Homo sapiens: one gene and its partners. The protein of the gene in region 4 purifies or fractionates together with the protein of the main gene of each other region. This does not show direct contact. Each region holds a gene or a part of one and is shown on either strand. Other genes may lie near its edges. The genes, in order: CPT1A, MRS2, PIP4P2 and TBC1D9.

What was found.
Region 1: the proteins of TBC1D9 (region 4) and CPT1A purify together in Homo sapiens (affinity purification with mass spectrometry; 2 studies listed by BioGRID and IntAct, with this or other methods). This does not show direct contact.
Region 2: the proteins of TBC1D9 (region 4) and MRS2 purify together in Homo sapiens (affinity purification with mass spectrometry; 2 studies listed by BioGRID and IntAct, with this or other methods). This does not show direct contact.
Region 3: the proteins of TBC1D9 (region 4) and PIP4P2 purify together in Homo sapiens (co-immunoprecipitation; 3 studies listed by BioGRID and IntAct, with this or other methods). This does not show direct contact.

Annotation. Positions count from the first base shown.
Region 1 is NC_000011.10:68,775,913-68,782,940, reverse strand, and holds part of CPT1A (carnitine O-palmitoyltransferase 1, liver isoform), read left to right. Parts: intron 1-981; coding exon 982-1,170; intron 1,171-2,195; coding exon 2,196-2,301; intron 2,302-7,028. UniProt on the Homo sapiens protein: Catalyzes the transfer of the acyl group of long-chain fatty acid-CoA conjugates onto carnitine, an essential step for the mitochondrial uptake of long-chain fatty acids and their subsequent beta-oxidation in the mitochondrion.
Region 2 is NC_000006.12:24,405,908-24,412,935, forward strand, and holds part of MRS2 (magnesium transporter MRS2 homolog, mitochondrial isoform b precursor), read left to right. Parts: intron 1-2,500; coding exon 2,501-2,537; intron 2,538-3,553; coding exon 3,554-3,666; intron 3,667-4,819; coding exon of another isoform or gene 4,820-4,892; intron 4,893-6,314; coding exon 6,315-6,488; intron 6,489-7,028. UniProt on the Homo sapiens protein: Magnesium transporter that mediates the influx of magnesium into the mitochondrial matrix and regulates magnesium metabolism. Also permeable to calcium, sodium and potassium ions.
Region 3 is NC_000008.11:90,995,849-91,002,876, reverse strand, and holds part of PIP4P2 (type 2 phosphatidylinositol 4,5-bisphosphate 4-phosphatase), read left to right. Parts: intron 1-6,132; coding exon 6,133-6,223; intron 6,224-7,028. UniProt on the Homo sapiens protein: Catalyzes the hydrolysis of phosphatidylinositol-4,5-bisphosphate (PtdIns-4,5-P2) to phosphatidylinositol-4-phosphate (PtdIns-4-P).
Region 4 is NC_000004.12:140,620,366-140,627,393, forward strand, and holds the end of TBC1D9 (TBC1 domain family member 9), read right to left. Parts: intron 4,024-7,028; coding exon 3,949-4,023; intron 3,855-3,948; coding exon 3,751-3,854; intron 2,553-3,750; coding exon 1,830-2,552; 3' UTR 417-1,829; downstream 1-416. UniProt on the Homo sapiens protein: May act as a GTPase-activating protein for Rab family protein(s).

The DNA of each region.
Region 1 (7,028 bases), on a different chromosome or scaffold from region 4:
TGTAGGCGCCTCGGTCCCGATGCCCCCTCTGGATAGGGCCAGATCAGCATCTTACCCATGGGAGTCATTCACAGGAAGGGCTCCGTACGTGCCGGCCACCGTCAGCGTCACCTTTGTTCCCCGAGCGGGGTGCACTGAGGCCTAGCGTGTTTCTAGGCTTATTCGCCCTGCGGGCCGCCATAGCCAAGCACTCCTAGAGAGAAGAAGGTGGGGAGAGAGCCAGATGGCCCCGATCTGGAAGGGTGGGCAGTGGCAGAGGGTCCTGGAGGAGCTGGAGTGAGAGGGACCCGGGAGCACTCGAGGAAGCCCAGCTGGTGGGTCTTCCAAGAAGGAAGTGGGCATCACACCAGTTCTGTGTATTCAAATAAGACGGGCACGGAGACCTCCTTGTGGAGGGGTCACATGGGCATCTGTGGAATGCACCTGGGGGCTGATGGCCTGGGTTCCGACTCTGCCTCAAAATAGCTGTGACCTAATCTTTCCGTGCTTCAGTTTTCTCATCTGAAAAATAGGTACAGTAGCATTGAGAAGATCAGTAAGTTGGTACACAGAAAAGGTTTGGAGCAGAGCCTGGCATGAGGGACGCACTCTTACGCACTTACTGTGACCTGGGCTGCCGGAACTTACCTAGGGTGGTTCCTGTAGAGGGGAGGGAGGGTGTGTCAGGGAGCGTGGAACAGGGTGATCTGGGTCTGCTGCTTCCTGGCGGCTTTGCCCACGGGGCCAGCCTGCAATCTGGCCGTTCATTTAGTCAGCATTTATTGAACAAAAAATACCCACCGCTCCCCATGCTGTGGTCTGGAGACCAGGAGCAGGTGAGAGTCCTTCCAGCAAACAGTCTCAGATGGGGAACATCATCAACATGGAGTTTTCCTTCGAGAAATTCTGAAAAACTGCAAAGGTTTGATTGTGTCATTTCAAACATCACGCTCCATCGCTGCAGGTCGGGCTGCCTTTAATCGTATTTCATCTTCACTGCAGAGTTCCCTGGGCCAGGTGTCGTCAGGCCTATTTTGGACGTGGGAAAAATAAGCAGTCTCTTGATGCTGTGGAGAAAGCAGCGTTCTTTGTGACGTTAGATGAAACTGAAGAAGGATACAGAAGTGAAGACCCGGATACGTCAATGGACAGCTACGCCAAATCTCTACTACACGGCCGATGTTACGACAGGTACCGTCCTTACCTTCTGAGAGACAGGAGTTTGCCCATGAGCTTGGAAGAAATACCCTGTGTGCCTGACACTCACCCCTAAGTATCTATAATGCTAAGAAAGAAGGTGGCATAAAAATATAACCTTCAGTTTTATTTTATTTTATTTTTTGAAATGGAGTCTTGCTCTGTCACCCAGGCTGGAGTGCAGTGGCTTGATCTCGGCTCACTGCAACCTCCACCTCCCAGGTTCAAGCGATTCTCCTCCTTCAGCCTCCCAAGTAGCTGGGATTACAGGCGTGTGCCACCACGCCTGGCTAATTTTTGTATTTTTAGTAGAGACAGGATTTCACCATGTTGGCCAGGCTGGTTATGAACTCCTGATCTCAAGTGATCCACCCACCTCAGCCTCTCAAAGTGCTGAGATTACAGATGTGAGCCACTGCGCCTGGCCAACCTTCAGTTTTCTTCCCTCTGCCAAAACTATCACACATACACAGCCTGAGCTGCAAATCTGAGATTCTTCCCTCCTCTGTGCATGACCACCTTTGTTTGGAGATGCTCATGAGATGCAGGGCTGCCAGGTCCCTGGACTCAGGCAGGGGAGAGTGGCAAACAGGGCTAGGCACAGGGTTAGGCCAGGGTGTTGGCATGTGGCTATCTCAAGTCCTCTTTTTCTTATCTGTAAAGTGTTGGCCAGCCCCGCCCCCTGCAGGGTGGAGCCAAGGATTGGCTGATGAAGGGGTCATGTGCCCACGGGAAGAGCCTCCCACCTCTCCCCAGTTGCCTTGCGATAACAACAGGTCCTGACTTCAGGCTGCCAGGATATAAGCGCTCATCTTTGTGTCTGGGACAGGGAAGAAATGAGTGATTCAGTGTCCTGTTTGTACTTTCACCCTCACTCCACAGAGACTGAGTGTCTGCTCACTGTTAGAGGGACAGGTGCAAAGTGAATTAGTCCATCCAGGATGAAGCAGAGAGGTGCAATGTCTCCTCATTGTTGCCTCTTTAAACACTTAAGTTCCACACATGTGTGTTTCACGTAGGTGGTTTGACAAGTCGTTCACGTTTGTTGTCTTCAAAAACGGGAAGATGGGCCTCAACGCTGAACACTCCTGGGCAGATGCGCCGATCGTGGCCCACCTTTGGGAGGTGAGTTTTCACACTTTTCACTTGAATGTGGAAGTTGCTTTTGAAAATCCAAACCTGGCCAGGCGCAGTGGCGCACACCTGTAATCCCAGCACTTTGGGAGGCCGAGGCGGGCAGATCACCTGAGGTCAGGAGTTCAAGACCAGCCTGGCCAACATGGTGAAACCCCGTCTCTACTAAAAATACAAAAATTAGCCGGGCATGGTGGTGCATGCCTGTAGCCCCAGCTACTTGGGAGGCTGAGGCAGAAGAAATCGATTGAACCCGGGAGACAGAGGTTGCAGTGAGCCGAGATCGTGCCACTGCACTCCGGCCTGGGCGACAGAGCGAGACTCTGTCTCAAAAAGAAAAAACAAAAAAGATAATCCAAACCCCACAGTCAATTTAGTTTTGTAATATTTGCGTGATTATAGAATATGAATTTTTCACTTGTACTAGTAATGCACATGAAGTTAAATCACTAGATTAAAGGCATCCCTGTCTTCCTTTCCCATAACTTAGGTCCCTTGAACAGCAGTGCATCTCCTGCCATCTCCTTAGGGAACAAAAGAGTGAAATGGCAGTTGACTCTCAGGCCGCAGCTTCACAGCAGAAGTGAAGCTCGGTTTTTCCTGGAATAAACTATCCCTTATGTGCTGGATTTCCTAGTGTTTCCTACCTACCGCATTTTTTAGGCCAAATAGAAGCAAGCATGTGAAAATCTGGGTTTATAAACATGCAGCGTGTCTTTTACCTAAGACATCATTTTAATTCTTAAAATTACCAGGTTATTTGAAAACCACAAACCCCTGTCCCCCTGCCTGCACCTGTGGATTGGCCTCTACCATTGTTTTTTTTTTTTTTTTTGAGACAGGGTCTTACTCTGTCACCCAGACTGGAGTGCAGTGGCACAATCATAGCTCACTGTAGCCTTGACCGCCCAGGCTCAAGACATTCTCCCACCCCAGCCTCCCAAGTAGCTGGGACTACAGGTGTGTGCCACCATGCCCAGCTAATTTTTGTATTTTTTGTAGAAACAAGGTTTCCCCATGTTGCCCAGGCTGGTCTTGAACTCCTGGGCACAGGGGATCTGCCTGCCTGGGCCTCCCAAAGTGCTGGGATTACAGATGGGAGCCACCACACTCAGCCTTTTTTTTTTTTTTTTTTTTTTAATAATTCGTTACTCTGAACTGTTTGACCTGTTCCGTGTTTGGCATGAGAAATTAAATGAAAGTTTTGTTTCCTTAACTCACCGGTCAGGTTCTTGTTTAAAGTTGCTAAATTCTAGGATCATCATCCGTAGACTTGACACAGAAAATACTGTGGTCACTTGTTGTGATGAGACTTGAGATCTTTTTCTTTTAAAGCAACAAGCCCCTTTGAGATTCACATTGACTATAAAGACCATCTTTTTGCAGTGTTTTAAATTTTCCTGCTGGCCTAATAAATGAAGTGGAATAAAATGACCTGAAAGTCACGGCGTGTGTGGGAGACAGGGCCCAGCTGCAGGCTGAGCACCTCGCTGTTCTTGATAGGGCATGGAGCCGGGTTTGTGTGTCTGAAATTAGAAATTAGTAGTGGCCAGGCGCGGTGGCTCACGCCTGTAATCCCAGCCCTTTGGGAGGCCGAGGCAGGCGGATCACGAGGTCAGGAGAACGAGACCATCCTGGCTAACACGGTGAAACCCCGTCTCTACTAAAAATACAAAAATTAGCCGGGCGTGGTGGCTGGCACCTGTAGTCCCAGCTACTCAGGAGGCTGAGGCAGGAGAATGGCGTGAACCCGGGAGGCAGAGCTTGCAGTGAGCCGAGATCACGCCACTGCACTCCAGCCTGGACGAAAGAGTGAGACTCCATCTCAAAAAAAAAAGAAAGAAATTAGTAGTAAACTTGTGAAGACATCATAATGTATGACCTTCTTTTTTCTTTAAACTTCTGTGAATGTTTTGAATTTTGACTTTTTTTTTTGAGATGGCGTCTTGTTCTGTCACCCAGGCTGGTGTGCAGTGGTGCGATTTCAGCTCACTGCCACCTCTGCCTCCCCGGTTCAAGTGATTCTCCTGCCTCAGCCTCCCGAGTAGCTGGGATTATAGGCACATGCCACCATGCCCGGATAATTTTTATATATATATAAACCTGACCTCAAGTGATCCACCCGCCTTGGCCTCTCAAAGTGCTGGGATTATGGCATGAGCCACCACGCCTGGCCTTGACGTTTCTTTTTATAATATTGTGTCTGTCTATTTTTCCCCCAAGAGATAAACAAATTCTGGTGCCAGTTTTTTCTTGCAAAGTCTTCGCACTCACTCTCCTCTCTGCCTGGAAGGCTTTTCCCCCTGGCTTCCCCTGGCTCCTGGCCCCGTCAGGTCTTCCTTAGGTCTCAGCTGACCTCACTTCCCCTAGGAATGGCACTGCCCTGCTACCCTCTCCCAAGACTAGGTTAGGGGCTCCTGTCTCATCTTCCTCTACCTCTTTTAATTGTCTTACTTCTGGTTGGAGTCTTGGCAAAACCTCCAGCCACTCCTTCAGCCAAGGGAGGTTTTCTATGTAGGAAAAAGGATAAAAAGGAAAAAAAAAAACATAGTGCTCTAGGCTTTAAGACACCAGTATGACCCTAGGACATTAATACCTGATAAAAAGCAGCCAATATTAAAAGGGCTTTTCACCACCACCAGGGTTCTTTGGCGATGTCGACAAAAGCTGAGAGAGCCTTTTAGCTACAGAGCGCATTGAAGATCAAGCTGCCTTCAGTGTCTCTGGACGTAGCAAGAAGGCACGCTTTAATAAATCTCTGCACAGCATAATAGCCCGGGCTTGTTATACCCCAGGCCAAGGACTTCCCGAGTCCTATATGCCTAAGAGCTGTTGTTTGGCAAAAGAAAAAGAGTCGGGACCATAGGCAGCTGGATCACACAGGGTACATTTATCAAGTAGAGAAATCTACTGGATATTTACAAGATCAGGCTTGTTTTTTAAAGTTCTCTGGATAAGGATAAAGGGATTTTATCTTAGACCAGGGTGGGCACGTAGAAGTAGTGGTGTTTAGTTGTTAGCGTCCAGCAGACAGGATGGCCTGACTCCAGGGACCCCTGGCTGGGGGCTTATGTGATCCATACACAGATGGGGACTGACCTAGTCTCACATGGGGGCCCAGTGCAGTCCCTTAAAGACAGATCTAGTCAAACTTGAGTCTGTTTGTTCTTGTTCTTGTTCTATTTTTATTTTTTATTTTTTGAGACAGGGTCTTGCTCTGCCACCCAGGCTGGAGGGCAGTGGTGCAATCTCAGCTCACTGCAACCTCCAACTCCTGGGTTCAAGTAATTTTCCCACCTCAGCCTCCCGAGTAGCTGGGACCACAGGTGTGCGCCACCACGCCCAGCTGATTTTTGTATTTTTTGTAGAGACGGGGTTTTGCCACATTGCCCAGGCTGGTCTCGAACTCCTGGCTTCAAACAATCTGCCTGCCTCAGCCTCCCAACATGCTGGGATTACTAACATGAGCCACCACACCCGGTCTTGCTCTTGATTTATTTCTGATGTTTCTGTGTCAGGCTCTTCTGGAGCTCTGACCCAGAGCAGGTGGAACCTGATCAAGTCTGTTCGTTCGCTGGCTCAGGTCAGCCTGGATTGTGACCCCCACGTATTAGCGGCACCTTCCACCCGCCCCGCCGCCTCGCCAGCCGACAGTCACCCCGACCTTGTGTTGTTGTTTTTACCTCCCTCACTAGAATGTAAGCTTCCTGAGCACAGGGATTCCTCTTTTAAAAAAACTTAATTTTTTTAGTTGAGATATAAGTCACATACCTTAAAATCCACCCTTTAAAAGTGTACAATTCAGTGGTTTTTAGTATATTCACGAGGTGCTTGTGCAACAGTCACTGCTTAGCCTCCCGAGTAGCTGGGATTACAGGCGTGCATCGCCACACCCACCTAATTTTTGTATTTTTGGTAGAGGCGGGGTTTCCCCTTGTTGGCCAGCTTGGTCTCGAACTCCTGACCTAAAGTGATCTACCCGCCTTGGCCTCCCAAAGTGCTAGGATTACAGTCGTGAGTCACAGAGCCCAGCCTAATTCTGTACTATTTTTATCACCTCCAAAAGAAATCCCTCATTCCTTTCTCCCCCAGGTTCCTGATGACCACTAATCTTTCTGTGTGTATGTATGTGCCTATTTTGGACATCTTATATAGATAGAATCATACAATATGTGGTCTTCTATGTCTGGCTTCTTTTTTCTTTTCTTTCGCTTTCTTTTCTTTCTTTTCTAGAGACAGGGTCTTGCTCTGTCGCTCAGGCTGGAGTGCAGTGGCACAGTCATGACTCATTGAAACCATGACCTCCTGGGCTCAGGTGATCTTCCCACCTCAGCCTCCTCAGTAACTGGGACTACAGCCATGTGCCACCACACCTGGCTAATTTTTAAAATTTCTTGTAGAGATAAGATCTCACTATGTTGCCCAGCTGGTTTGGAACTCCTGGCCTCCAGCAATCCTCCCACCTTGGCCTCCCAAAGTGCTGGGATTACTGAAGTGAGGCACCGCGCCTGCCTGCTTCTTTTCACTCAGCATAATGTTTTCAAGGTTCAGTACGTTGTAACACATACCTGGAATTCATTCCTTTCTAGGGCTGGATAATATCTCATTGTATGGATTGACCACACTTTGTTTATCTCTTCATCAGTTGATGGGCATTTGTGTTGTTTCCACTCTTTGGCTATTATGAATAATGCTGCTCTGAACATTCTGTACAAGTT
Region 2 (7,028 bases), on a different chromosome or scaffold from region 4:
ATCCTGGCTAACACAGTGAAACCCCATCTCTACTAAAAATACAAAAAATTAGCCAGGCCTGGTGGTGGGCGCCTGTAGTCCCAGCTACTTGGGAGGCTGAGGCAGGAGAATGGCATGAACCCAGGAGGCGGAGCTTGCAGTGAGCCTGGATCATGCCACTGCACTCCAGCCTGGCAGACAGAGTGAGACTCCATCTCAAAAAAAAAAAAAAAAAGGTGTGCCTATTCTGAGCCAGACTTCCTAAATTCCAATCTCACTCTGCCTCTTATTGACTAGGTGGCCTTGGACAAGTTACAATAACATCTTTGTGCCTTAGTTTTCTCATCTGAAAACTGAGCATAACCTACCATATAGAATTGTTATGAGGATTAAATTAACTCATATATAGAAAGCCCTTAAACTAGTGCCTCACATATAGTAAGCCTCAAATATATTTCATTAGGATTATTTAGGCTTGTTAACATAAGAGCTTTTCTTTATAAACTATATAAAATTAAATAACCCCCAGAATTGCGTTTAAAAGTTACCACTGTTATTCATTGTTCTGGAAGAGTTGGCCAATTTAGTTAAGAATACAAAATCAGGGCCAGGCACGGTGGCTCACGCCTGTAATCCCAACACTTTGGGAGGCTGAGGTGGGCATATCATTTGAGGTCAGGAGTTTTAGACCAGCCTGACCAACATGGTGAAACCCCGTCTCTACTAAAAAACAAAAAAATTAGCCAGGCGTGGTGGTGCACGCCTGTAGTCCCAGCTACTCAGGAGGCTGAGGCAGGAGAATCGCTTGAACCTGGGAGGTGGAGGTTGCAGTGAGCCAAGATTGCACCACTGCACTCCAGCCTGGGCAACAGAGCAAGACTCTGTCTCAAAAAAAGAATACAAAGTCAAACGTGAAATACTGAAAGTTAGTTCTTTGCAGGTGAAATAATTGCAAAGAACACTTAAGAAATTCATAAAGCTATGGAATCTGAGAAAGAAAAATTTAATTTGTGCTGTTTGAAATAGTTTAGAAAGTGAGCTGGTTACAAAGTAAATATTTTTTTCTTTATAATTTGTATGATTTAAAAAATTTTTTTAAGTTCCATTAAAGAAAAAAAGGGTACATATAAATATTGAGATGCAAAAATATTCAGCATATGTTGCTAATTTGGAAGGAGGGAGACTGCAAAGCAGTATGTATAAGTATGTTTTATTAGGAAAATGTTTGGAAGGATATTCAGTGAAATATTGACATGGTTTTCTCTAAAATTTGTCATTTCAGGTGATTAATATAGTTTTATGTTACGTATATTTATTTTCAAATTTTCTGCAGTGGGTTTATGTATTTGTGAAATATAAGGCTGAAAGCTAGACTATTACACAAATATAAAGCTTTCTTTGATATAAATTTTCCTTTAATGTTCTATGGAACTTATATATTCATATTAATTTTATTTTTGCTGATGAGAAGCAAGATAAAATATATATATTGTGAGTTTTTATTGTGTGATTAACACAGCATGTATATTTCCATGGTAGTAACCCAAGACCTATATTGTACTTAAACCTGTATGTTGGAGTGTCTTTCTGAAATGTGTCTGTCGTAGTAAGTAGTACAGCTCAGCACATAGTGATTCATTAAATGTTTCACAGCTTCAAACTTGACTGTGGATAAACATCACTGAAAGATAGTCCCCTACTTTGCAGGAAATAGGTGCATTTTCTGTATCAAATCCTCTCTTCAAACTATCAGAAGGGGTTCTGTAAATCTTTATTGATTCTGCAACACCCACCAAAGAGACTTTGGCCTCATGTAGACATTTAGATTCACAAGGCGGGCCATACTTGGTCCCAGTCTACTCAGAAGGATAAGGGACAGGAGAAACAACAGGGTAGTGTTAGGTGTTTCCTCTTCAAAAGAAGTCTTTGCAGCCATCCAGGGGCTTCTCTGGTCCTCTGAGTGATCGCTCAGTGACAAGGAGATAAGATTCTCAAAGGTGGATGTGAGATTCATCTTGGCTCGAATCCCCATGCCCCGTAGTGACAGTATCCCTTGTAACCATCGCAGGGGCACAGTGTCCAGGATTCTGGCTGGGAACATGGCCACAAGAGCCACCACAATCAGGAAAGGGCAAAGAGAGCTATTGCTTTTCACCTGATAACTGTAATTTGTTCGTCTTCCCAGTCCAGTGCAGTCTACCAGTCAATGGTCATTTTTACCATAAGGATTGTTACCTAGTAACAACACAACTGATACTCCTTTATCAACTTTCTAGAGGAACCAAGATAGAAAGTTAAACCCAGGTCTGATTTTTCCTATCAAAGGAAAAAAGGATTTTAAAAAAACCCTTAACTCATAACTGGATTTAATCTAAAGAAGGTCAGTAATGGTTTATATTTGCATTTCAACATTTTGGGGATATTACTTACAATACCATAAATTCTTAACTAAATTAGCAATACCATAAGTAGCATTCTAATTTGAAAGAAAATCATAATTTGTTTTATTCTCTATTTTCAGACAAAATTTGACAAACAGGGAAACGTTACTTCTTTTGGTGAGTGATTAGCATTCTAAATCATTTTTTAAACATTTAATGAGTGAATCTGATAGAAATCAAGAAATTGTAGTATTTTGAGTAAAATATTCTTTGCATATACAGGTGTGTTGAAAGAGATCTTTCTTCAGCATTTGTCCATCAGTCTTAATTGGAGCTGGCAATACTCAGACTGTGTGTATTCTCCCAGAATTGTTTTCTTCTAGCAGGAGCCACTTTTTGCTCTAACAGGCTATTGAAGGAATATTTGGGAGAGCAGAGGCTGGTGTAGAACTGGAGCCCAGAGACACACTCTTTTTCTCTTTTGTCTCTCTTGTTGGCGTCCCTTTCACTGCCCTCATTCATTCTCCTGAAGCATGTTTAAGGCAGAGTCACATAATACCACTGACATTGCAGTGGGTGACAAAAGATGAACAGGGCCATGTCACTGCATGGCAGCCACATGGAACTCTGCTGCTGATGGCTCTCTGTGGACAGCTACTTTAAAAAGTGAGACTAGGCATTACTTTACAGTGTGACTTCAGATGTGAGTTTCACATCTCCCTTGAGAATGAATCAGTCTCAGGTAATAAATTCAGCTTTTCTCATTTTTGTATTAGTCTAAGAACAAAGAAAATCAAGCTTATCTGTTCACATATATAAAATACTGAAGATGATGTTGTAGTAAAAATAGAAAATATAGTTGTGTACAGTTTATATTTAAGAGAGATAACCTGTCTCTAGAGCTGGACATTTATAGGTTCTAATGATGCATAGTTGTGGTTTCTGTATTAGTCTCAAGGGTCTTCTAAGTAGTGAGAAAGTTATGAGGTATAGATAAGAAAATCATTAGTTTGACTCTATTTAGCCCGAGTATGTTTTCTAGGTAAAAATGGATATTAAAAGACTTAATTTTAGTTTTTGTTTCTGGTAGTAACCAAAAATTGTCTTGATGGTGGTGGGAGGACTGCTCTGATGGAAAAATCTAAGCCATTTAATGTATTTGGTTTAGCCCTCTCTGTTTATTTCTTTTATAGAAAGGAAGAAAACTGAATTATACCAAGAGTTAGGTCTTCAAGCCAGAGATTTGAGATTTCAGCATGTAATGAGTATCACAGTCAGAAACAATAGGATTATCATGAGAATGGAGGTAAAATATTTTATTTTCATCTATGTTTCTCCAATACAATCTTATAAAAGTTACCTTCTAACTATCTTGATTAGTATCTAGGTTAAAAGTAATTTTGGAATAGAAATAGCTACCTGAAACATAGGATGTTTTATAGCTTAATATGCTATTATGAGTAGAACTCATTTTATATGGATTATATGCACATGTTCAATAGGCATAACACTGCTGTGTTTTAAGTTGGAAAAGCTCTGACTGTGGTGTTCATTCTCACTGTTGGGATTTACTCTCTAGTTCTGGAAACTATAAGACAATCCTGATTTATAATAGATATATATCCAATTGTGTACAGTTACATGTAATTATAGTATAACCTGAGCTACCAAAAATGTATTCTGGCTTTCTAAATAGCACAGGAATAGACATTAAATTTTATAGCCTTAATTTTTTTTTTGAGATGGAGTTTTGCTCTTGTTGCCCAGGCTGGCACGATCTTGGCTCACTGCAACCTCCACCTCCCAGGTTCAAGCAATTCTCCTGCCTCAGCCTTCTGAGTAGCTGGGATTACAGGCATAAGCCACCAAACCCAGCTAATTTTGTATTTTTAGTAGACATGGGGTTTCTCCATGTTGGTCAGGCTGCTCTGAAACTCCCGACCTCAGGTGATCCACCTGCCTCTGCCTCCCAAAGTGCTGGGATTACAGGCATGAGCCACCGTGCCTGGCCAGTTTAAATTTTTTTAATGGAAAACTTTCTGAAATATATTGTATTTTCCCTTACCTATTCAGAGCATGCCAAATAATAATTTGACTTTCTTTAGTGATTCAGAGTTAATGTGGGTTTCAGTTATTTTGGTGGGCTAATGTTTAGGTTCAAAAATAGATGAATGGTATTGGCCCTGTAGTGGGTATGAGACTTTCTTCAAAGAGTCTTTGATGGCAGATTTTTGTTCATTTTTCTAGAACTAATCAAAATAATAAAAAATGGGCCAGTATTGGTAGCATGTGCCTTTAGTCCCAGCTACTCAGGAGGCTGAAGTGGGAGGGTCACCAGAGACCAGGAGTTTGTGACCAGCCTAAGCAACATAGCAAGATCCCATCTCTAAAAATAAATAAGTAAATAAAAAATACTTTATCAAAAATGAAGCAGTCTTCTCCCATGTGATTTTCTTCAGAAATATTCTCTACTCTTGGAATCAGTAGCTAGCATTCTTCAAAACAGTGTCTCTTTCATGGAGAGACAGACAGGTATGTGAAAAAGCAAATTCAGCAGAATGATAATTGTGTAATCTAACTGGTGGGTATATGGTGTTCACTGCAATCTTTCAACTTTTCTGTATAAAAATTTTCATGAGGCTAGGTTGTGGTGGCTCACATCTGTAATCCCAGCACTTTGGGAGGCCGAGAGGGGTGGATCACCTGAGGTCAGGAGTTCGAGACCAGCCTGACCAACATGGTGAAACCCCGTCTCTACTAAAAAATACAAAAATTAGCCAGGCATGGTGGCGGGTGCCTGTAATTCCAGCTACTCAGGAGGCTGAGGTAGGAGAATAGCTTGAACCCTGAAGGTGGAGGTTGCAGTGAGCCGAGATTGCCCCACTGCACTCCAGCCTGGGTGACAGAGCAAGACTTCCATCTCAAAAAAAAAAAAGAAAAAAAAATTCATGATAGAATGTTGGAAAAATGTAAAAATAGAAAATTATCTCTAATTTCTATATCACTGATAAAGTGGCTACCTTTATCTACTTTTAACATACAAGATAACCAGTCTTTTTAGAAAAAATTCTAATTTCATATTGTTCTAAATTAGAGTAGTAAGGCTATGTTTCATCTTAATTTCAGATTTTGTTTATATGCTTTAGTGGTGTTTTAAAAAGGAAACTTCCATTTGTGCCAAACTAATTATGATTAAACTAAATCTTTTCTAAAAGTCTGCTCAATACCTGACTTTTAGGAAGACCTTATCTTGTTCCCTTTATTTATTTATTTATTTTTTCCAAAAAAGAAAGACGGAGTCTCGCTCTGTCGCCAGGCTGGAGTGCAGTGGCACAATCTCAGCTCACTGCAAACTCCGCCTCCCAGGTTCAAGCGATTCTCCTGCCTCAGCCTCTGAAGTAGCTGGGACTACAGGTGTGGGCCACCACGCCTAACTGATTTTTGTATTTTTAGTAGAGACGGGGTTTCACCATGTTGGCCAGGATGGTCTCGATCTCTTGACCTCATGATCCACCTTCCTCAGCCTCCAAAAGTGCTGGGATTACAGGCATGAGCCACCATGCCCGGCTTTCTGGGGGTATTTTTTGGTGTTTTTTTTTTTGTTTTTGTTTTTTTTTCATGATTACCCCAGAAGTCTTAGTAAATATATAATTTATGTGAATAATTCCAGTTTTATTGAGAGTGAGTTAGCAGTATCAAGACATATATTTTTTAAGTTTCTTTTCTTTTGAAAAAAAAAACCTTGATTTTTTTGAAAAACAAAAATGAACACTGATTTGGTTTAGTCTTAATCCACAATTAGTAAAGTATTAAACCAAATTTTATGAATGTTCTTTTTTCCTACAGCTCTACAATTTGCATATATATATGTATGTATACATATATATGTATATACATGCATGTGTGTATATACACTCACATATTTATATGTTTTGGTTTTTTTTTTTTTAACAGTATTTGAAAGCTGTGATAACTCCAGAGTGTCTTCTGATATTAGATTATCGTAATTTAAACTTAGAGCAATGGCTGTTCCGGGAACTCCCTTCACAGTTGTCTGGAGAGGGTCAACTCGTTACATACCCTTTACCTTTTGAGTTTAGAGCTATAGAAGCACTCCTGCAATATTGGGTAAGTCTGTTTTTATTTAGCTTCTTGGGTTTATTCTGATTTTGAAATGTCATTGAGTGGGAAGACAAGTTGGGGTATTGTTTCAATGGCATGTCCCCTGACCACATCCTGCCCCGAAACAAGTCGTCTCTAAGGATCCTACATGGAGATATCACTTAATTCTTAAATGTTATGACCCAGTCAAATAGAACTAAAGACTCTATGTATATTATAAAAATGCTTGACATGTGATAATTATTTTATTAAATCATTTCATCAAGTCATTTTTTGATTTGTTTGTACAATCCTTTGTTTGAGCCAGGTAAATGATGCATCTTTTTGAGACCTAGATTGACATAGGAATCACGCACAGTTCTTCCAGTGACTCCTCCTTTAAATTAAGAGTCCTTAGATGTCTGAGACTCCTGTCAGGCTCTAAACAAGGGTGGTTCTCTGCTTCCCTGACCCCACAAATCTTTCATTATCTTTTCTTCCTCCTGTTAAGTCAGGATGGTACTGTTCAGGAACTGGCTACATGCAAGAGTTGGTGCTGGGAGCATA
Region 3 (7,028 bases), on a different chromosome or scaffold from region 4:
CTTCCACAAACATATTATGCAGTTTCTTTCTTCTGTTCCTGAGTCTTATCCTGCTAGACCTAGAATGGCCTGGCTACTCCTTTCCTTGCCCTTGTCTACCTAGAAAACACCTATTTAACCTAAAAAATTAGCTGAAACATCCCTTGCTTCTACTCTTCATCTGTAGAAACATTCTGTGGCACAAAGGTTATTCTGCTGCTTATTCCTTGAACAAATTTTCTTTTCACACCTGAACAATTCTAATGTAATCAGCTGAAATGACTTACTCCCCCATCTATTCACATTTTAAGCTATCCTTAAGTCTTGTGTAATAAAGCCATCCCTGGCTGCCTTGTCTGAAAATTGTAATGTAAAGAACATTGTTTGCCGCCTTTTCCCCTTATAAATTCCTGTAGCACTAGCTACACTACCATTTTCCAGGTGTTCTTCATAATCCTAGTGTTTCATAAGGTGTTTTTGTGAAGCGAAAGATTAATAATTTGAAGAGTGAATAGTTAGATGTTTGAGAGCATTGAATGGTCTTTTCAGCTTGGAGATTCACTGTCCACATTTTTGTATATGCCCTTGACTTTCACATGCAGTAATATAAAAAACCAATTAGCTGTAAAAATCATCCTTTTAAATGCATAGCTCAGCTCATATGACAGTTGGGGACCAAAAATGAAGATTAAGTGACAACCAGGACTATCCTGAAGGTATATGCCAACACTAGGGATCTACAGCCTTGGAAGAATGAGAGAGAAGGCATTGGCCTCACACAAGGTAGCGGGGTTAGAATACTGCCTCCTCCCAATAAAGTACTTAAAGTACTCTTCCCCTGGAAAAGAGTGAGTTAGGAAAAAGAAATCAACCAGAAAAGGAAGATTGCAGAGGAAAAAATTTATAAGAACAGTGAATTTAGGTTTATATTTTTATATCACTTATGCGATCTAGGAAAACCTAGTTCCAGAAACTGACTTAAAGTTTAGGGTTAGTATCAGTCTAGGGAGCCTGCGAAAAGCAAATGAAAGTTCTGTATGTAGGAAAGCACCCCCAAACTATGCATGCCAAAATTTTTTTATATTGAGATCTGCCAAAATAAGTTTTCAACAAAAGTTACTAGTCATAGGAGAAAACAAGATTCCAGAAGCATAATCAACATTGACAACAAACAGCATAATTAGACCTCTAAAAACTTCAGATTTATAATTATTAAATATGGAGTATGTTAAAACTATGCCTAAGATGTTTTAAAATAAAAATAAGAGAAAACATGTAAGACTATTTAAAAATTACCAGGTACTCACAGAAATGTATATGTGAGTGTTTGTAGCAAATTTGACACATGCAACAGCTTGGATGAATTGAATTTATGCTGAGTAAAAAAAAAAACTTAGCCATACAAGGTTACCTGCAGTAAGATTTCATTTATGTAACATTTTTCAAATGACAAAATTGTAGAAATAGGGAACAGATTAATGATGGTGTGGCAGGCACAGGGTGCGGGATGGGCAGAAAGGAGGGTGTGGTTATAAAAGGATCCTTACAGTGATAGACTGTTCTCTATTTTAGCTGTGGCAATAGATACATGAACCTAAACGTGATAAAATTGCATAAAATTAAAGAAAAATCCATACTCATATACCTGAGAAATCTGAATATTGGTGGATTATATGAATGTTAATATCCTGTTTATAATATTGTATTATAATTTGCAAGATTTACTATGGGGGAAATAGGGCAAAACGTACATGGTATTTTTATGTGTTATTTATTACAACTGCTTGTGAATCTATAATTGTCTCAAATAGAAATTTGCAAAAAATAACCAGATAGATATAGAAAGAAACAATAGAACTTCTAGAAATTATTACAGAAATTAAAATGCACGTACGGTTTAAAGAACAGATCAGCTAAAGGTGAAGACTAAAGTTGTGAATTGGAAGATAGAGGTAAGTGAATTACCCAGAATCTAGCATAGAGAGACAAAGATGAATGTAAGATTAAGAGAAAATATATTATTAAGATGCCAATTATATATCTGATCTGGAAGGAACAAATAAAGAATGGGATATGGCATTTTAGGAGATAATCTCAAATAATTTTCAGATCTATGAAAGATATGAATTTTTATATTCAAAAAGAACAATGAAATCCAAGCAGGATAAGTAAATGTGTTACAGTGAAATTGTAGAAAACCTAAGAGAAATAGAAGGTAATTAAAAGCAGAGAGACAAAAGGCATATTTTCAATAAGAAAAAGATAACAGTTCTGTCAGCAAATGTCTCAACAGCAAAAATAGAAGCCAGAAAACAAGTTTTAAAATACATCAAAAATACTAAGAGAAATTAACTGTCAAACTGGTATTATACACCTATCTAAACCATCAAAGAATAATGAAGGTAAAATAAGTATATTTTCAAAAGCAAAACCAACAAACTTACAAACAAAACCCAGGGTATCTACCATCCTGGTACCCTTACTAAAAAAAAAAAAAACTGCTAAATGATGAACTAGGGAATATGAACAAATATTCCAGAAGAAATTTCTGCAGTGCAGGAAGGAAAGGTAAACCAAGAAATTGTAACAATTCACCAGAAACACTGACTGTATAAAATAGCCAAAACGACAGTACCAATTATATTAATGCTAATAAGTTTTGAGAAACAAAAATACAATAAAACTGAAATATTGGAAAACAGTAGCATTAAGATGCTAGTGGAATGTTTGGTGTTAAAACTTTCTAAAATCTTTATATTTATCAGGAAGATGGATTTAATAATTGACTTTAGTTTTTAAAACATATGAAAGTTAAAATTTTAAGTGCAACTGCCAAATGAATGAAATAAATTGTAAAACTTTCAGAATAATAAGAGGAAAATGAAATGAAAGAGTCATGGTCAATATAAAAGAAGTCTGGAAATAAAGGTAGAAAAGCAGAAAATACAGGAATAGTAGAAAGCCAAAATAAGGTGTCAGAAATAGTCCATGTATATCATTAGACTAATCTTGCTAGTAAAACTTAACAGTAATGGTAAGACTAGATGTAAGAACAGCTATATACAATTTGAGGAAGGAACACATGAATATTAGAACATAGAATGAATGTATAAGGATAGAAAAAGATACAACCATAAATCACTAACCAAAGGAAAAGACATACCAGGCAAACACTAGCCAACATTAAAATGTAATGTTAATATCAATTAAAATAACAGAGACTGCTGTTTTCTCCTTCCTTTTATTAGTAGACCTCTGAATTTGACTAGCCACTCAGCTAGAGATGGATTTCCTAGCCTGTCTTGCAGATAGTGTGGCCATCTTTAAGTTAGGACCAATGGAATGTGAACAAAAGTGATGAGTACAGTTTTCTGATACTCTCCTTAAAGACAAAATTGCCTGTCTTCGTTTTTTCTCTCCTCTTTGAATTGAGTGGAAAAGCCAACTGGCAGGAATGTTGTTACCTGTGTAGAGTTTGGCAATACCAATCAGGGAGTACAGCTGACTACCAACCCTAGGCTGTACATTTACCTTTAAGTTTTATCTGCTAGAAAAATAAACTTATTTTTAAACTTCTGTATTCTGAATTTCTGAATGTTACGTTCCTTTCTCTCTACAACCTCACCAGCATCTGTTATTTTTTGACTTTTTAGTAGTATTAATTCTGACTGGTGGGAGATGGTATCTCATTGTGGTTTTTATTTGCATTTCTCTAATGATCAGTGATGTTGAGCTTCTTTTCATAGAATTGTTGGCTGCATGTATATCTTCTTTTGAAAAGTGTCTGTTCATGTCCTTTGCCCACTTTTTAATGGGCTGGTTTTTTTTTCTTGTTTAAGTTCTTATAGATGCTGGATGTTAGACCTTTGTCAGATGCATAGTTTGCAAAATTTTTCTCCCATTCTGTAGGTTGTCTGTTCACCCTGTTGATAGTTTCCTTTGATGTGCAAAAGCTCTTTAGTTTAATTAGATATCATTTGTTCATTTTTGCTTTTGTTGCAGTTTCTTTTGGTGTCATCATCATGAAATCTTTGCCTGTTCCTATATCCAGAATGGCATTGCCTAGGTTGTCCTCCAGGCAACCTATATAACTATAAATGTTATAGTTTACATTTAAGTCTTTAATCCATCTTGAGTTAATTTTTAAATTTGGTATGAGGAAGGAGTCCAGTTTCAATGTTCTGCATATGGCTAGCCAGTTATTCCAGCACCATTTATTGAATAGGGAATCCTTTCCCCATTGCTTGTTTTTGTCAGGTTTGTTGAAGATCAGATAGTTGTACGTTTGTAAGTGTGTGGCCTTATTTCTGGGTTCTCTATTCCGTTCAATTGATCTGTGTGTCTGTTTTTGTACCAGTAATATATATTGCATGTAGATACCACATATGTACTAAATATGTAAGAGATTTTATGATTAATAAGTGCTTGTTGGTCATTGCCTTATCCTGTGAGGAGATGGCACTTGAGTTGTGGAGTAGCAGTAGGTTATTTTTTTCAGAGAAGATTTCTCAGATGTAGTGACTATTTAATTTGAGTGATGAAAAGAGAGCACAGGTTTTCTAAGCAGAATTCATGCACTGAAATTAATGTACTAAAGTGTATTCTCTTGGCTCACAGAAAAGCCGCTCTAATATTCACTTAGAAACTTTTGACTTATTCAGTACATAATTTTAATAAGCTTAGTTGGCTTCTAATAAATGGTATATTACAAACTGCCAAATGCAGATGCACAGGCAGTGATAAGAAACAACAACCAGATGTGATGTATAAGGCAAGAAAAACCACCAGTGGATGCATAGAAATTAAAACCAAAAATAGACTAGGGCTAAATGTTACATAAAAGCAATGAATCCTGCATGCCCTAGTAACTCTAGATAGCAAGCTGTACAATATAGTAATTAATGGTGGTCCCCAGGTCATCCAGATGTTTGTGTTTGGGCTCAAGTACCCAGGAAAATTTACGATGTATATTTGCAAAAAACTTCATCAGTTTTTCAAAAAGATTTGGAAATTAAAGGAAATAATTTTGTATGCAAAATTAACCTATTTGGAATCACATGTTTCTAAATCATGCCTAGTAAGTGATGAATTTCTGTATTTTACTTATTCATCAGACATTCTTTGAGAGGTTATTATGTGTTAGGCATAATCTTGACACTGGCCACACAAAGGTGAATCAGATACTTCTGTGTCATTCACTAACACGATGCCTTGCATATGGTATATAGTAATAAATATATGTACGTTAAGACAGAGAAGAAAGTGCTAATTTGGCTACTAATCTCTGCTATAACTTATATCATTTTGAAAATTACCACAATTAGATACAGAGAGGGTGAATACTATTAGATTTGGAATTTCAATTGAGTAGCACAGTAGAGGGCTTTTAGCAGTATGTATTAAAAACAATTCAAAAAGTTTAATCCCTTTAATTTGTAATCCTAATTCTAAATTTAAAAATCTTAAGAATGATTAAAAATAAGCACAATGCTTTTAAATGATACTTTGTTGGCATTATGTATAATAATGAAGATACTTTAATGTACAATAGTAGAAAATTTTTTAATTATGTTATATTCATCCATCAGAATTTTAGTTTGAGAATATTATGGGAAAAAGTTCATGCTATATATTGGTAAGGTACAAAATTGGCTACAGGAAAGTATGCAAAAATACTGAGTGACTATTTTATGATATTGGGATTATAGGTAATTTTTTCTTTCCTTTTTCTTCATTGTTTCTTTCCTTTTTATTCTACTTTCTAAATTTTTTACATAAACACATACTCTTTTAACTGTAAAAAAATCAAATGCTATTTGTAAGATAGCTGTTTTTCCATTCTGAAATAGATTTTTTTGGAAATAAACTTTTATCTTGGGAGATTAGTAGGTACTACAATGGATTTCTGTGGATATTATCAATGACCAAGGCTTGAACTTTGTTTAAAGCCACAATAATATCACAAATTCACCCTGAACGATTTTGTCACCCATTAAAAATGACATGTTTAATGCATGTTCTTGTCTGTAAAGTTGAAGCAATGAATAAAAAGTATATAATATTACTAAAGCCATAGATAAGAACTCACAAAAATGAAATAGAGAATTTTTATGTAAATACTTAATGTTCTCTTTTGCTTTCATGAATTTGCAGCTCCTCAGTGGGTAGTGCACTTCCACGAAGACGCTGCTGTGCATATATTACCATTGGAATGATATGTATTTTCATTGGAGTTGGGTTAACTGTGAGTGTTACACTTTGATGTTAGAATTCTGTCCTCTCAACTTTATCAGTAGTCAATCATGAGGCCTGGGACAACCTTCAGGGATTCCTGAAGAGGCTGCCTCCTTGGCATGCCAGCACTAGAAGCTTCTGAATGATTATGAGCAATCAGAAACCCAATCCATGGACCTCTTTTTGATTGAACTCGCCCATCCAAGTGAAACGGTGTCTTTTTACCTCCAAAAGTCCTTACTGTTGGGGATTTTATCATCTATTTAGCAAAAGCCCATTTAAAAAAAAATCAGTGCCAGAACTAATTTTTATGGCTATGGGGTCTCTTATTATTCAAAGCAATATTCATTCAGCTACAGAGATCTAAAAAAACCACTCTTCTCTTTATCCAAATCAAGCAGAGATTTATTACCAATATGAGGATGGCTTGTTTTTAGAGAAGACTGGAGCTAAGCAGTTAGCATGGGGATTATGCCAGAAGAGGAAGATAATCTCTTTGGCTGCCATTTCCATGCTCCTTTGTTTGTCAGTACAACTAGTCCCTTATTATTAGCAATGTCCTATTGTGTCCCATGATAGTAAGAAGTTACATGGATTAAATTCCTTGTAGAGATAATATAGTTTAGTGTGCTTTTTTGTTTACTTCATAACATTTATAGTTACTACAAGTAGCAGTATGGTCTATCAGTTGCAGTCAACAGATACACCTACTCTTATAAGGACTTTGTGTATTCGGTCTGGGGGTATATTTCATAACAATCACATGTAAGCTGATACAAGTTCCCTAAGCAGATATTTTTTAAAGTTTCTAATAT
Region 4 (7,028 bases):
TTGCTTTTTACAATGGTTGAACTAAGGTACACTCCCACCAACGGTATATTTGTGTTGTTTACTTTACAACCTCGTCAACATCTGTTCTTTTTTGACTTTTTAATGACTGGTGTGAGATGGTATCTCATTGTGGTTTTGAAGACAGACATGCAACCAACAAGCATATTTTAAAAAGCTGAATATCACTGATCATTATGGATAAGCATTTTAAGTTAGATAACTGATAACAATTATATTCCTTATTTTAAATATAGTCATTGATATACTACAAATTGTATTTCTCTCTCTATGTTTGCCTATAAAATTTATTTACTTAATCAAAATGGTTGCCTGATATAATTTCCCCTGCAAAAGTTGTCAAAAGAATAATGTTATTGCCTTAGGCAGGAACTCAAGCACAAAGATAAAAAGCTGTATCTGAGTATTTGCTGTATTTTATTTGTTCACATTTAGCCTATTTGAGGTTAACACTACTTCATTTGACAGTTTAAAAATCATCCTGTAAATAGAATAAAAAACAACAGCAGCAATAGCTAAAAAAAGGACACAATGTATAATAAAATAAAGGAATGTGTTGAAAGAAATATTCCAAAGAAGCAAAGGAAATGAGACCATGATTATGAATTCAACAATCAGAAGAAAAAATCGTCCAACATCTGTAAAAAGCAAAATCATAACAGTAATAAAAAAGAAGCAAGAATTCAAAGTGCAGGTGCGCTAGCTTTCATTTCCACATCCATTCAGGAAATAGAGCATACTATTCTTTTATATAAAGTGACAAGTTCTGTTTTTAAAACATTCAGTTACATTATCTTGCAGATTTTTTTTCAGTTTACATTATCTCTACATTGATTTGATGGAAAGATGGTCATATGCGATATGTGGTATAAATTTCTTCAATCTATGGAGAATACGGAAATGGTAAAGTTGACTGTTTTACTTATGTTTTTGCAGTAAGAAGCTAAACATCCAGTATCAGAAGCATCAGTACTTTTACTCTTTCAAAAACAAAAGCAAAGCAAAAGCAAAAACCTGTCATGAGCCCTCTGTCTTTGCTGCTACTTTCAGATTCTCTGTGACAAAAGACTGTTACTTTTCACTGAATTCTAATGAGTTGACGTAAATAATCAGAACAATTTCTTAAATGCAAAATTGGTCTGGTATCTGTCTAAATTGGTCAATACAAGTGTTATTCTGGAATCATGTAAAAATCACTTACTTTCATAACTGTTTAGAACCCCAAATGTTTTCCCTTTGAAGGGGAACATCTGTGGAATATGATTTTGAATAGAGGACTTCTATGAAATATATTTCAAATCTTAAAAATATTTTTAATACTTCCTAAAGTGGTATAGGATTTACCCTCGCTGACTATGCCTTCCATTTAAGAACAGTCTTGCATTTGTGGCTTTTCATTTTCCTTACAGCTCTAATTTTATTTAAAAAGCCTGAATACACAAATGACTGCTGCCTTACTTAGCATTAAACAGTACTATTTTTTAAACCATGTATACAGCTCAACAGCAAGATTAATAAGTTATAATACACACATATCACTGACAGATTCATCTTTTTGTTTTTTAGAATTCACGAAATAAACTGTATTCTGGTAAATCCCCTCCCCGCAACAAGAGTGTAATGTACCTACATTGAGGTGTTTAAATATTTCTCCAACAGTTTTCATTGAATTACATTATGAAAACACTAGGCTTCAAGCCAGGTACTAATAAATATTTAATTTAAAAGAAAGAAAGAAAAAACTCAACACAGAAGAACATAAAAAATCCCTCCCCTCCCTCTCCTCCCACTCCCCCGGGAAGGCGCCCGTGTCAGCCGGACATGGCCGAGATTTCATAGTCACTGGCCGAGGTGAGGGGCTTGCCCATCATCCGGATGTTTTTTGCACTGGTAATCCTGGCCATCATGCACACGGGCTTGTCAAAGTACTTGACCAGGGCAGGCTCAGTTAAGAGGGAGGCCAGGAACTGCTCGAAGGTGATGGCCCAGTCCCGGTCCAGGCTGGTGCTCCGGGGCAGTGCCGCCGTGCCCTGGCCGCTCCGCACCAGGACCGTGTCCTCTCCGATGTCCTCGCAGTGCAGCTTGTCCTCCTCGTGGGAGCCGGCACTCAGCACCGAGTATGAGGACATGGAGCTGTCGTCCTTGGTGTCGTCGTCAGAGATCAGCATGGAGGAGCAGGCCCCGTTGTCCCGGGGCGAGGAGTCCTCCAGCTTGATGTCCTCCATTTGTCCTCCAAGGGAGTGTTCCTCGCTGTCGGGGGCCAGGCTGGCCGGCAGGGGCTCAACAGACTCCACCACGTAAGGCTGGCCTGGCCCTTTCTTGGGGAAGAGCACGCCTGGGATGCCCTGGTGGCAGGACGGCCCACTGCCTCCGCTCCCGCCCTCCTTTGCAGGCTGGGCCACGAACAACTTGCCGACCTCCCCAATCTCCAGCAGGAGGCTGGTCACTGCTGCCGTGGCGTGGTACAGCTCCTGCTCATTGGGGTCTTCGCTGAACATGTTATACATTGTCTTACACAGTTCAATGAACTGCCCCTGAAAAGCGATTTGGAAAAACACAATGTGAAATCTTGGGGGAGCAGAAAGGCAGCACTGAAGTGGACTGTAAAGCCATTTAAATGAGAACGCCTAAAGATCCCTGGAAAGTCCTCCGCCTAGGCTGGATGGACATGTTTAAAGTCTCCTATTGATGTTTCTATTTTTAATTTTTATTTCTTTTTGAGACAGGGTCTCTCTTTGTCGCCCAGGCTGGAGTGCAGTGGTGCAATCACGGTTCACTGCAGCCTCAACATCCTGGGCTCACATGAACCTCCCACCTCAGCCCCCCAGGCACACACCACTATACTCTGCTAATCTTTGCGTTTTTTGTAGAGATGGGGTTTCGCCATTTTACCCAGGCTGGTCTTGTACTCCTGGGCTAAGTGATCCTCCTGCCTTGGCCTCCCAAAGTGCTGGAATTACAGGTGTGAGCCACCACACCCAGCTTATTTTCCCAATTTTTTAATTTGAAAATTTTCCAACATCTATGAAAGTTGGAATGAAAAAGTAAACATCCATGTACAGCTCACCTCGAGTCAAGAAGGACTATGTCATACATTTGGCTCAGTAACTTTTTTCTTGTTCTCTTTTCCCTTTTTGAAACATCTTAAGGAAATCCGAGACTCATCTATTTTCACGTCTACACACTTTAGCATGCACCTCAATTTTTCCAAGGTTAGCTCCAATCCCTCCTCCCACGACACATGCCCCATCTCCCTGGACAGAAGTAATGCTTTAGTGCTTTCAGTCTCCACCCAGATGACTTCTGTTCTTCAATTACAAAACTTAGCATTTTCAGCCTATAATTATTTATATTGTTTTTTTCTTCCTCATTTCACCAGGTTTTTAAGGAAAATGTGCAGACACCTTTATAGCTAAGCACGGTGATCTGAAAACAGCAATGTGTTTGTCTTTCGAGTATCTGAGGGTATTTTTAATGATTGCAATAAGATGCATTTACTCTCAAAATGGAATATGTTGTGGTTCACATTTCCTCTGAGGAAGTCGTTTTTTCACAATGGAGCATATTTTTGATGCATAAATACATGCACAAAATAGGTCCAAATGGATACTAAGTAAAGGCCCCAGTTATTATTTTTGATGGGTATTGAGTCTACATTTATCGATGACTTTTCAGTCATAGAAAAAAGAGTGTCCAGGTTTGAAGCGAATGATTTGAACTTTAAGCACTTACCTGATTTAATTTGGGTAAATCCTTTGCATTCTTTGACTTAGATTTATTTTCTGGAGTCCACAGTCTCAAATAATTACGATTTTCTTGGGAATTTGCTCTCTTCCCTACAACCCAAATGTCAAGAAATAAGTGCTTACAGGCCAAAAAACAAGTGTACAACCAGCAAGAAGGTAAACATATAGAAGAGAATATCCTTACCTTTGTCTGGCTTTAGGCTCACCGTAACAAAGCCATCATCTGCACCCTGTTTGCTTCTGCTATCCAATCCAACAACTACCAAGAAATGGTTCAGAAGAAAAAAGTAGAATGTTATATAATATGACCATGGAATTAGCATTTGTAGTGGAAAATAGAAGACTCTCTAAGTAGGGTTGCCTGATTTAGCAAACAAACAAACAAAAAAAAACTCCTCAAAACAAAACAAAACATTCAGTTAAATTTCAATTTCAGATAAACAACAATTTTTGGGGGGGATAAGTATAACCCTGACATTAGAGGGGACATACTTATACTAAGAAAATTATTTTGTATCTGAGATTCAAATTTTACTACATGTCCCATAATTTTATCTGACAACACTATCTCCAGGTAAAGGACCTCCGCAGAATTCTTTCTCACAGCTGGGGTTCAGTGTACAATAAAAAATTAATGGAGGGTCAAGCAGCGTGGCTCATGCCTGTAATCCCAGCACTTTGGAAGGCCAAGGTGGGCAGATCACCTGAGGTCAGGGGTTCAAGACCATCCTGGTCAACATGGTGAAACCCTGTTTCTACTAAAAATAGAAAAATTAGCCGGATGTGGTGGCACATGCCTGTAATCCCAGCTACTCGGGAGACTGAGGCAGGAGAATTGCTTAAACCCAGGAGGCAGAGGTTGCAGTGGGCTGAGATGGTGCCATTGCACTCCAGCCTGGGCAACTAGAGCAAAACTCCATCTCAAAAAAAAAAAAATTAATGGGATAATGCCACATAGCCTTTAGTACTTAAAAAATGGTAGTGCTTGCCCCAATGAATGTTGATTTCTCTCCTGTCTTTTCTACATTATCATTTAACTTTGCATATATGAGACAGATTTTTTTTGCCAGACCCTGCAAAAGATCCAGAACTCACTCTTTCAAGGAAATTAAAATCTATGTTGGCAGAAGAGAGAAAATTTTTTTTTTGCTAAAATGTTACATGCTATAAAACTACTTCAGATTTATAATTTGGTACTTCAAAAATATGACTTTTAAGGAACCCACTTATAACTGTTTTGTCTTCTTAAAACGAGACATTACAGGGCACATAGGGACTTCAAAATAGAGAGGTGTACAATGCCCTCAGTTTCCCATGCAGTTTGTTGGCTGTTAGGGTGCATTCCAGCACTTCTTCAACCACCCAAAGCTGGCTGGTCAGACAGAGATGTGGCCTTTACTGTATTACGTGTCAAATTAATCTCAGTAGCTTTTAAGACACAGTGAGGAAAGTGTACTATGTGTTGTTGGGAAATTCCTCCCCTCTTAATGTTGAAAATGATGTAGGCAACAAGTGGATTTTTAAAAAATATTTAATGTATGGTAAGTCCATGCAATGGATACTATATAGCCATTTAAAAACCACATTTTCAAAGAAATTTTAATGACAAAGTAATATTCTCACTGGATTTCAAGTAAAAAAAGCAGGATACAAAACTGTATAGGTAGTTTGATCCCAGTTCTATATACATATATCTGTGGTGTGTATGTGTACAATTTGAATAAAAAACTGAAATATTTCAAGGTGAATTATTAGTTATCTTTATATGGTAAGATTCTAAGACAGTTTTGGCTTACTTATTTTACCCGTACCTGAAACATTTCCATGCAAAGCAATAGCATCTTTGGCACTGGAAAACCTTCTTCAAAAAGCATATTTCAATGATATTACATGCTATTGGCATGTGACCATTTCTGAAGCATTTCTAAAACAAGAGAATCCCTTTCTGAGATGTATGTCTACTAAGAAATGTGTGGAGAACATTTTGTAGCCAGAATGTGACTGCTAATGGTATTAGGTTGGTGAAAAGTAATTGTGGTTTTTGCCATTACTTCCAATATATAATATTAAGAATATGTAGGATGCACTAAGACACTATGCAAAATGTCTTATTACATTCTCTTATTAGGTCCTAATTACACCCAATATGATAGCTATCATCTCCATTCTCCACACAAGGAAACTGAGGCTCACATAGGAACCTGCCTGCACTCACCTAGACAACACTATACATAGCTAGTGTTCTGTCCAAAGCTCCTACCCTCAACTTGTATTGCCAGTCATAAGACTGAGCCTGGCTCACTCTCTCTACAGAAATCACTTTGGTGCTTACAGTCTAAAAGTAAGGTCTCTTGGTGCAGGTCTCTGTTGTGCTTATTTGGGGATGGCAAAACTTAAGAGGCAAAAGAACCCAGGAGAAACCTACATTTACTTTTGGACTTAGGTGAGTTGATAAAGTTGACCTAATGATGAATTAGAAGGTAACTTACTGCAGTAGCAAGCCAAAAGACAATGCTAGATTAATGTAAGACAAAACAGTATATGAATTAATATATAAATTTGGAGACATATATGAGTTGAATCACATCTTTGTAGACCTATCATCCACAGAGAGCAGGAGCCAGCATATGTCTTTTGTAAAGGACCAGACAATGAATATTTTAACCTTTGTAGGTCATACTGTCTCTGTTTTAGCCACTCAATTCTGCAGCACGAAAACAGCCATAAGCAATACATATATAAATGAGCTTGGCTGTCTTCCAACAAAACTATTTATAGGCACTGAAGTTTCTATTTCATATACTTTTCATGTGGCAAAAATATTTTACTTTTGATTTTTAAAAACCATTTAAAAATGTAAAAAACCATTCTTAGTTCACAGGCTGTAAAAAATAGGTGGTGGGCTGGATTTGGCCCACGGGCTATAGTTTGCCAACTTCTGCTATAGAGCAAACACAGATATAAGAGAATGCTTTCTGACAGAAATGCTAGTTCCAATTCTGGATGGCTGCCTAACAGGATATTATTAATGAGGCTGATCCTGGCAGAAAGAGGGCAGCAAAGTATACAGCTCTATAGGACACAAGTTTCCTAACCTACTGGGAAACAATGTACATGTTTCCTTCAGTGGGCTGAGGTACCTACTGCCCAATAGTTGCCTAATCTCAAAAACTGGAAAGGAAAGTAACCAATTAAGGCAACCATATTTACATACTTCTTTGATTGACTAGCTTTGGAGGCAAGTCTTTTTCCAATAATGGAGGG